2 separate regions of the Homo sapiens genome follow, and region 2 is linked to region 1. The links come from fine-mapping of genetic effects on gene expression. A gene starts in region 1. The other region holds a variant in brackets. All regions are shown on one strand. Distances are between the middles of the regions.

What was found. PIP is the estimated chance that this variant, and not a neighbour inherited with it, causes the effect.
Region 2: its variant is the best candidate, but not a certain one, in a credible set for the expression of BTBD3 in whole blood (TOPMed, PIP 0.72).

The regions. Positions count from the first base shown.
Region 1 is chr20:11,915,233-11,920,621 of GRCh38, forward strand. It overlaps BTBD3 (BTB domain containing 3), which reads left to right and starts at 2,661. Exons shown (of 4, transcript NM_014962.4): 1 at 2,661-3,369; 2 at 3,854-3,944; 3 at 4,486-4,604. The coding sequence starts at 3,044. It overlaps BTBD3-AS1 (BTBD3 antisense RNA 1), which reads right to left and starts at 3,369. Exons shown (of 3, transcript NR_186407.1): 1 at 3,082-3,369.
Region 2 is chr20:12,008,280-12,013,668 of GRCh38, forward strand. No RefSeq gene overlaps it. Among named protein-coding and RNA genes, the nearest start is that of BTBD3-AS1, 92 kb to the left of the region's middle. The variant T/C (reference allele first, on the strand shown) is at 2,479.

The DNA of each region.
Region 1 (5,389 bases):
CTTCCTTTCCAGAGAATATCTTGGTCCCTCTCAGTTGGCTGTCTGCACACCTCAATCCTAGAATTTGACATTTGGGGCCTAATCAGAAGAATTTCAGAACAAGATGTGAGGGGTTGTTAAGTTTTTAATGTCCAAACTAAATTAAATTATTTTGAGTTATTTTCAATTCACTTAATAGTTGAATGCAACATATGGCACCAGATGTTGGTACTGGATCATTGGGAAGACATCTAGTAGTCAGTAGTTATCTATGTGAAGTTTTTTTCAACCTTGAATACTGTATGAAATGCAGATTCTGATCCAGAGTCTGGCTGAGATTCTGGGTGACTAATAGGCTCCCTGTAGATGCTGCTGCTGATCCTTCAACTACATTTTCAGTAGCAAGAACCTGCATTACTTGCCTTATTACCGTGGTAAGAAAAAGTAGCCGTCAGATAATTTTTCTGTCTTGATTTTAAACAGCCATGCTCATCAGTCCTTACATACATTGGAGTAATAATGCCCTTCTTTGTAGCACTCTTGTAGATGATTCAGATTTAGCGCTACTTCATTTAACTAGTATTGTCAGAATTTTCTACAAAACTTATTTTTCTAAATAACTGATATCTGTAATTTTAGAAAACATGTTCTACAATATTGCATACTTCTCTTTCTCAAACTGTTACATCCACTTTACTTTTTTTCTTTAACTTAGTGGTGTAAGAGCCATGTGTTTTGGAGACTTCTTGGTGATGGGTATTGAGCCATATGCAAAATGAGTAAAGATCACAAACCCTTCTAAGTTCTTGTATCTGTGTTTTATGTTTTTTCTATTTTGTCTCCATCCAGCTACCAATTAATAGTATGTCTGCCTAAAAGCAGCTGGTTTCCCTTTCCATTCTAATTGATTACTTCTGACCTGAAAAGCCAGATACTAGATTTGTTAGAAATATTTATGAGATTAATCCCAGTCAGAAAGGCCTACCTGGCATGGGAGCTTTCCTGCAAGGAAGTGGTCAAGGAAGTTCAGTGGCACTTGAGCAAGAGAGAAATCCTTTAGTGTTAACCCTATTCTGAATAATTAGGTCAATAGGAGCTTACTTGTTTCTTCATGACTTTCTCTATGTGCTTTTTAAACTGGTTTCTAGATCCCTCTCTAACATTGTGTGTTAAAGTGTGTATGAAGATGATTTGGAGGTATCTGTATGTGTGTGTTCTGCTGTTGAGAACATGATAATCATAATAAATAAGCAGTGCTTCAGGATCCATCTAAAATGGAGACAGGTAACTGTGCTACAGGCCCTGGTTCTCTTACAGAGGCTTTGCAAATGGTTTTAAGAATAATAATAACAACAATAAAGAGGATATTTCTTGGTTCAATTTAGTGTTCTAGGGATTTAAAGACTGATTTCTGGTAACCGCCTTTAGCAGATTATTAATTATAACAATAACAATCGTAACTCTTATTTGCTGAGCCCTCACTGTGTCAGGTAGTCATTATTCAGACAAATGTTAAAACAAGGAGGGCTGTGGTCATGAAGGGTGCATTTGCCTGAGGGGTAGCAAATGGCTGCTGTGCTTTGAACAAATGAGCGTGATCCAAATAGATAGGGGTGAGATTAAATATTTTAATTAGTCCCTCTTTACAATAAATAAGCATATGCAGAACCTATTGCCGGTGTTTTTGTTTTTTTTACTCACCAACGCTAGAAATGGTTGGAGGATTCACACCTACAAAAATCAAATGGTAGCTTATATTCTTCTAATTCAAAGCAGAGAGAACCTGTTTGCATTTTAACTAGGTGGAATCCGAACATTTATCATTTTGAATAGCCTTGTTATTTGTTCTGTCTTAGAAGTTGTGGATTATATTCTTTAAAATTAAGACAAGACTAAATGTAGCCTTAACAGTTAAGTTGAATTTTGAGATCCTGAACATGGCCCCATCTGAAATATTTTTAGTGAATTACAGCCTTTGAACATTGATCATCAGATTTGTTTTTATTTGAATCTTATTTTTACTTCTAGAGTTTATCTTATGCTTTAGTGTACTTAGGTGTACGGGTATAATCTTAATCTAATTAACAGTATTTTGTGACCTGAGACACCTGTCAAAGACCATTATAGAAGCTAGAAAACATTGGGAGGTAAACTGAACACATGGCCTCAGTTCTCTTCTTTAGCACTAGACTATGACTTGCACTCAAAAGAGGCTAAGAAAAAGAAAAATAACGTCCTTTGCCTTTAAAGTGTAATAAATGTGTTTTGCTATTAATAGCCCTTTTCAGTTTATAGACTGGAGGATTTTGTTTTAAGTATTTGAAACTAAATGCTGCTGGGAAAAAGATTTTAGTAGAAATATAGATATCTGTCCCTACCCTTTGTTAATTGATCCTGCTTAACTGGGGACATAATGTATGTCTACTGAAGAGAAATCTGTGGGCATAAACTCCTCCCTTCCTGTTGTCAAATATATTTCATATGTTATTATCTTGTTTAAATATACAGTAGACAAGAAAATGCAACTGCTGTTCCTTTAATATCAGAACTATGCATGTTACAATAGGTGTCACTGTTTTGCTTGGTCCAATCATGATTGGTGACTTCAGCTATTGGCTCGGAGCACTGGCTGTCTGACTCCATCTGCAGGGCTGTAATACCTACTCTCCTCCGATCCATTCACCACACAACTTCAGCCGGCTGAACAGACTCACGCAGCTCCAGCCCATCTTGCTGACCTAATTCAGAAAAGAAGTGCTACAGCTCTGTGCCTGTCATCTTTGCAGTGTAGCATTTTCAGGTGATCTAGGAAACAGTTATTTTTATGAGCAAATAAGAGAAACAGGAATCATGATGGGGATATATTTAACAGACCCAGTACTGGATAAAACTTAAAGCCAGTTTCTATTCAACATAGTGAAAAGGTCACCTTGCCTGGCTGAGAAAAGCAGCAAAATATCAGCTTTGTTGGTTTCAGTTAACCTCTTAGCCCGGGCTAATCTCTTTTCCTTGATGTTCAAACCAATTTGGGATATCTAACTCTAAAGAGAGACACACTGTACTCATGGTAGATGACAAGGAAAAGAACATGAAATGTCTCACCTTCTTCTTGATGCTTCCAGAGACGGTAAAGAACAGGTCCAAGAAAAGCTCAAAGAAAGCAAATACCAGCAGCAGCAGTAGCAACAGCAGCAAGTTGCCACCAGTTTGTTATGAAATAATTACCTTGAAGACTAAAAAGAAGAAGATGGCTGCTGATATATTCCCCCGTAAAAAGCCAGCCAACTCCAGCAGCACCAGCGTCCAGCAGTACCACCAGCAGAATCTCAGTAACAACAACCTTATCCCGGCCCCAAACTGGCAGGGTCTTTATCCCACCATTAGAGAGAGGTAAGTGCCGCGCTAGTCTATTTACTTTAAAAGTTTTCCTGTGTTGAAGTTTCTGCTTTTGCAAAACCTGTAATGTATTTGAACACAAATCTGTTTCCTCTTTTCCCAGAAGCTTTTTATTGGTAATGGAAAATTGCCTTGTATCTTTTCCAAAACAGTACAGCTGTTTTCCTCTTAGATAAAAATGTTTTTGCAAGCTGTAACATTCAAGTGACAGGGTTGTCTATGGGCCATAGAAAATGGGAACCTTTTATTTGTCCTTAGCTTTATTAAAAGTTTGTATAACTTTTATTTTAAACTTTAGTTACTTCCCTTATGTTTGCAATGATTATGAACAGTTTAGTTAGAACCTTTATTTGTTGTTTTGCCTTGAAGTTACTGGACTGTTGCTTAGCTTGCAAGTCTTTTGTGGGTTTTGTATGTTGGGGAAGGGGATGTTAAAAATGCAGGCTGCTGTGAATTAATGAGTTGCCTCTGTTTATAGAAATGCGATGATGTTCAATAATGATTTGATGGCAGATGTACATTTTGTGGTTGGGCCACCAGGTGGGACTCAACGGTTGCCAGGACACAAAGTAAGCAACAGCTGCATGACCGGTTTAGTCCTGACGTTTACAAAGAGGGACCCTTTCCATAAGCCTGTAACTTGGTGTGGGCAGCTTGCCGATGTCAGGCAGTGCATGTTTCACTCGATTAGGGAGAGAGCGCACCCTCTCCAGAGGGCTTTGGCCACGCTTAATTTTTTCTTTGTTTCCTTCTATACTGCTTTATATCTCACACATCCCCTCTTAACTCTCCAGACATGGGAAGTTGTTGTGACAGGTCAGGAAAGTCGTATGTTTACCCTTCTCCTAGAAATTAGTTATGTAAGCTATTATTGTATGTATTTAGTAATGAGGGGACATGTGCATTAATCTCTTAAAGCTTTGAAATAATTAGCAGCATGGTCTTATGCTTCCATGGCAAGCTACCCTGTGTACCTTGGCTTTTTCAAAGCAGTAGATTTTAGGTACGCTATGTTTACTAAACCTGATTGCCTAGTGTTGTTTTTCTGCATTGATTTGCTGGAAATGCCTTCAATTTAGTGTATGAAATAAGATTTCCCTTTCTACACAGTATGTTTTAGCTGTTGGGAGCTCTGTGTTCCATGCGATGTTTTACGGAGAACTTGCAGAGGACAAAGATGAAATCCGTATACCAGATGTCGAACCTGCTGCTTTTCTCGCTATGCTGAAGTAAGCATCATTCGTGTGTTTGGAAAGAGTTTGTTTATGCTGTATTTGTACCCTGCTGGTTTCACAGTTAAATTTAAGTTCTGCATAACAGAAAAGAAGACTGATGAAGAAAGAGGGTGCTGCTTACCTTGTAAATGTTTTCGGAAAAGAACACTTTAGCTTTCCGTGGAAAGCATATGGAATTATGCAGCATTTATAATCGCACCTTGACGTAGAATTTGGGAGCAAGTGGCATGTATAGTGATGATTTTTAACAACTTAAAATTAAAGACAAATAACTTTCTGGTATTAGCATTATTTAATAGAAGATGTTCTCTCTGAAAGCATTGTGTGTGAAAAAGTCTTTAAACAAATGTTTTTGCTTCACAATTTCAGAAGTTAAGTACCTTATTTAAGTAACACCAGTTGGGAGATTTCTGAGTATTCTAAGAGTTATTGTCTCCTAAGAGCAAATGAAAAACTTACCATCTGTTGAAATAATCTGATCTTTGTGTACACATACATATACATACTCATATAAAATCAGACACTCTCAAGGGTAAAAAGTACTTGCATTTGACATTACAGGGGAAATCTTAGAAAGATATGGATAGTCTCGTACAGTTTCATGTGGATTTATACAGAAGAACTTTCATTGGTAATACAGAAGTATGAAACTTAAAGATACGTTATATATTTATAAAAAAGATAGTTTTCTGTCTGGTGGGTCTTCTGCAGGCACCAGTATGTGTTAAACAGGTTATAGAATCAGCTTCTTTATCATGTACGGTACTAGACAGTGTGGT
Region 2 (5,389 bases), 93 kb after region 1:
ATTGTCACACCCGAATGGTACTTATTCGAAGAATTCAAAGAGATTTCAAATTTTGAAATATATTACGTGGCTCCATATTTCAACAAATTAGAGGGAAAACCATATAATTATACCACTAGCTAGTGAAGGGTTACTTTATAAAATTCATCATCTAGTCTTAAAAAAAAAAATTTAAGTAAAATTTGAATAGAAGGGAAGTAGCCATGATAAAGATTATTTACTTAACAGAAAACATGAGAATGGATGGTAAAATCCTGAAATCAATTTTGTTACAATATGGAAAAATTAGAGATGACTTTTATTACTATGGAAATTGAACAGTGTTTGACAAGTGCTAATTGATGCAATGAAAATAGTAAATAAAATAATCAGCATAAATACAGCAAAGGAAGAGATTCAGTTATTGTATTCTTACAAAATTAAACAGACTCCACTAAAGCAACTATAAGCAACTATTAAAATAATTAGGAGAACATAGAGATTGGGGGTGAGAGGGACTGGATAAATACATAAAATCGACAGCCTCTTTCTATAACAGAATAACCAAGTTAGAAATGGGAAGAAATTATTTGTACTAGTAACAAAATAATAAAATACTTATATCCTTCTCATTTTTTTTAGTTATATGTCAGAAATGAAGAAAATTATAAAATCTTACTCAAGTATATCAAACAAGGGATTTTGAAAAATACCTTATTTTTGGATGGGAGGACTAATATCATAAAAATACCAATTTATCCCAATTTAATATATAAATATAATGCAATCTTAATCTGAATTGGACTTGGTCAAAATAATTAATAATTCCATTGAAAGACTAAATAAAATTCAAGATTTTGAAAAAGGAATGACTAGACATGTGATTTAACATTTATTAAAAATGTAAAAAGCTCTTATATTAGTTTTCTATTATTCCTGTAGTAAATTACTACAAACTTGGCTTAAAACAACAGAGATTTATTATCTCACAGTTCTGGAGAAGTTTGAAATCAAGGAATCCTCAAGGTTATGCTTGTGCTGGAGGCTCTAGGAGGTCTTTCGTTCCCTGCCTCTTCCAGCCTCTGTTGGCTTCTAGTACTCCCTTACTTGTGGCTACATCACTCTGGTCTCTGCCTCTGTGATTTTCTGTCTTTGTAATTTCCCTCTGTCTTCTCTTATAAGCACATATTTTGTGATGGCATTTAAGGCCTATGCCAATAATCCGGGATAATCTTCTCATCTCAAAATCCTCAAAATCACATTTACAGAAGCTTTTTATAAATTTAAATAAGGTAACATTTACAGGTTCCTGTGATTAAGGTGTGGATATCTTTTGGAGTGGGGGAGGTGGCATTTCTCAGCCTACTACAGCCACTGCAATCAAAACATTTCACTATTAGAGCAGACAAAGAGGTCAATGGATAGAATAGTCCAGACATAGAACCAAGTACAAATGGGAACCAGAAATGTGGCAAAGGTGGGATTTCAGTTCACTGGAAAAAAAGATGCTTTATTTGGTAACTTATCTATAGAAGAGAAAATAAAACTAGATACCTATCTTATTACCATATAAAAAATAAACCCCTGGTTCATCAAATGTGCAAATGCAGAAGAAGAAAAATTAGCAGAAATTCTAGGATAATATCTGCAGAAGTTTGGCCAGTAAGGGACAGACATATATGACTGTACTGACAGTCCCCAACTTAGAATGGTTTGAGTTACGATTTTTCAACTTTACAATGGTCCAAAAGCAATATGCAGTCAGCATGCTACTCCACCTACAATGGGGCTATGTCTGGATAAAGCTGTTATAAATTGAAAATATTATAAGCTAAAAATGAACTTTTAATATTTTCAATTTATGATGGCTTTATCAGGACATAACCCCACAGTAAGCCAAGGTGCATCTGTATAAAAATATAAAAATAAAAGACTAACATGTCATAAACATCTTTCCAAAGATCAAGATTCTAAAGTTAGACAATAATTTTCATATTTTTCTTCATACATCTTCTATTTTTTGTGTTACAATGAACATTACTATATATGCAATAATTAAAATGAATAACATTTAAAGGAGAAAAATATTATATATGATTTGGGCCCACATAGGTTTGCATCTTGGCTACATTCCTTACTTAGTACTTCTGAAACTTACTTTCTCCATCTGTGAAAGGAGGACAGGTTGAGGTATTCCATGTTTAGAAGTGTTACAGTGAGGAATTGTAAGTATAGCAAACTGTAGAGAAACAAGGAGTGAGGTAAGGAGAGAATGAATATCTTTCTTTTTTTTTTTGGAAACGGAGTCTCGTTCTCCCCAGGCTGGAGTGCAGTGGCGCAATCTCGGCTCACTGCAACCTCCGCCTCCCGGGTTCACGCCATTCTCCTGCCTCAGCCTCCCGAGTAGCTGGGACTACAGGCGCCCGCCACCATGCCCGGCTAATTTTTGTATTTTTAGTAGAGACGGGGTTTCACCATGTTAGCCAGGATGGTCTCGAT[T/C]TCCTGACCTCGTGATCCGCCCGCCTCGGCCTCCCAAAGTGCTGGGATTACAGGCGTGAGCCACCGCGCCCGGCAGAAGATGAGTATCTTTTAGTTGATTTGAAAAGTAATTTACATAATCAGTAAGAAACCTGAGAACGTGTATATTGACATTAAGAAATAATGGGGAGACTGGGAATTACGGTTAGAACTAAAGCCCCATCTCTACCCCAAACACTGTTTGCTCCCACCACTAGTGGTTGGGGCTCAAAAGTATGTATGTTTCCAACTGGCATGGTGATGAGAACACACTTTCTTTCAAAATGACTACTTGCAACTTTATTGTCTTAACTTTCATTTCCTGGTAAAGTCTTGAAAGTCTTGAACATTTTTTCCTTTTCATTTTATGTTCCCAGGTTCTGAATTTATTTTGCTGAAAGAGAGAGATACTTTCTGAATTTTACCAGCAAGGCTATTACAGGAATTCCTTAAAGAGTTTAGCTAAGGGGACTTTGAATTACAAAAAGCACAATTTCCCAAACCAGTATCCATCAGTTAGGACACATTCAAGCCCTAGGAGATTATTACAGCCGTTTTTTTTTTTTGTTTGTTTTTGTTTTTTTTTTAACAATTACCATCACTGACCTGAATAATAAATTAGCATTACTCTTAGAGACTAGAATTAAAGAGCTGAAAAATTCTTTCTTTCCTTCCCTTCATTTCAGAGGGAAAGAAACCAAGGCGGAGGAAAGATCAAGTTGACCTACCAATGTCACACTGCTTGCCAGCACCAGCATCTTTCACCTTTCAGTCCACCTTCCTTCCCACACAGATACACTGCCCAGTATAAATCCTGAAAAAAGGGTCTCCTCCAGACTGCCCCAAAGGGTCTATTGTCCCTATGTCTTGCAGACTTGAAAGGCTAGTTTTCTTCTTCGAAGGGATAGAAAGTGCCAGAACTTCATTGTCCACCTCCAACATGCCGCTGTGAATCTTTCCAGCCTGAATTCCACAGGCATCACAAAGTGTCCTTGACACTTCCAAATACGAGTGAAGGATCTCAGGAATCCATTAACTATGCTGATGGATTAAATGGTCATGTATATCTGATAGGCTGACTAACAGAGGCAGGAATGGGAAAAGAAAAACCCTGACAGAGGTTTGCTATTAAAATTTTCTCTAAGAGGCATGGGGCAAACAACTGGCTTTAGGCTGGCATGCCATTCATCTGTTTCTAAGTAGGGTTAACACTATAGGGAGTTATTTTAAGTTTTTTGCTTGCATAGTTGAGAGAAAAATAATTTCCCTTATCTTTCCAAACTTAATGTCAGACAACTTGACAATCCACCAACGCTCCGTAACTAGAATGTCAGTCCAGACTTCTCCCTTTTTGGCCTATCGAAGGAGCAGTGTATACTTCCTAGAAGCTGGTGGGGAAGTCTTATTTTTATATTTCCTGAATCACAGGGAGCTTTTATCAAGATCTGTGCAGCTCTTTTTGGTCTAATAAAATCCTCTTGTGGCATCAAAGCTTGGGTTTCCCTAGAAACAGACCCTGAGTCTAGGATTGAGATGCAAATCAATTATGTGCAATTGTGATTGCAAGAAGTACCTACAGGGAAGTAAGGTGCTGAGACCAGAAAGGGAAGGAGACCAACAGTGTGTTAATGACAGGCTACACCAGGGGGAGACAAGGCTCAATTCCATTGGGAACCTTTAGGGGGCAGTGTAGAACACACTTCAGAATTGTCCCTCGGAAGTGGTGAGAAGCTGGGGTATTTATTTATTAACTCTCATTCCTCCTTAGCCGAAGCCTGCTTCTTGAGGTATGAACTCACCAGCATTTCAGCCCTGTTTGGTGGGAGCAGAGAGAAAGCCCACAGACAGGGAGTTGGCAGCTGCCTGCAGCAGGTCACCGTTACTGGGGCACCAATACCATTTGGTATAATGACCTTCTAGGAAGATAACTCACTTCCTAATTTTCAACAACCTTATTTCATAAATAGGTTAGGGCTTCTAACTTGACTTCACAAAAATAATTTAGGCATTTATACTTAAGCAGAGTGCAAATACTAAATTCATTAATTGGTTAGCACTCTTTTTGTTTCTCATATTAAAGGAAATAATAGTTTTAATTAAGATTCTGTTTTTTGTTTTTGTTTCTATTTTGCTATTACCTGGAAAGATCGAGAGTGGCTGGGTCCTGACCAGGAAGTTAAAGAGCGACACAGTTTGCTCAATGATGACATTTAAGCCCATATCACCTCATCGGTGGGAAATGAGGCTTCCACAAACTTTAGCTTTTCAAACGTATGAGTCATTGGAGCTGACAAAAGAGAATACAAGTGAAAATGTTCAGTGCATTTGCATTGCGACTAAAAGTCACCATAGTTATCCCAATTATGAAATCTGGCCAATGGGGAATGCCATGGTCCTTCCGGTATGTGTTTCTCTGGATTCTCTTCTATTCCCATCCTTCTCAGCACTTATTACCTTTCCAGGGACTAGACTCAAGAATGCAGGTGTGAAAGCATTATAGCCAATCCTATTTTGCTTTGTGTGAGAATATTCTCTAGCATTGACAGTTTGACGGTCCTTGTTGTTTTTAAAATTGTGACAATTTTCTTCAAATCTGGACTTGCTCTGATATTAAGGCTGGCACCCCGATGTGTGTGCTGCATTGACATCTGAGGCTTGTCTCATTGCCAGCAGGTCTCAAATTCTAGTTTTCTGTCTAAGATATAAGGGCAGAATGTTATTTATGGGCAATTACAAAGATCACCTTGCTCCATTTGATTTATTGGAGAGATTTCAATCAAGGCTTAGAGCTCATCCCAAGCAGACAACCATGCTGACAGTATTTAATGATTTATTGAATGCTGGCAACTCCAGCTCTTCCTCTTTTTCAGTTTTAAGTTGGTGGATTTGGGGG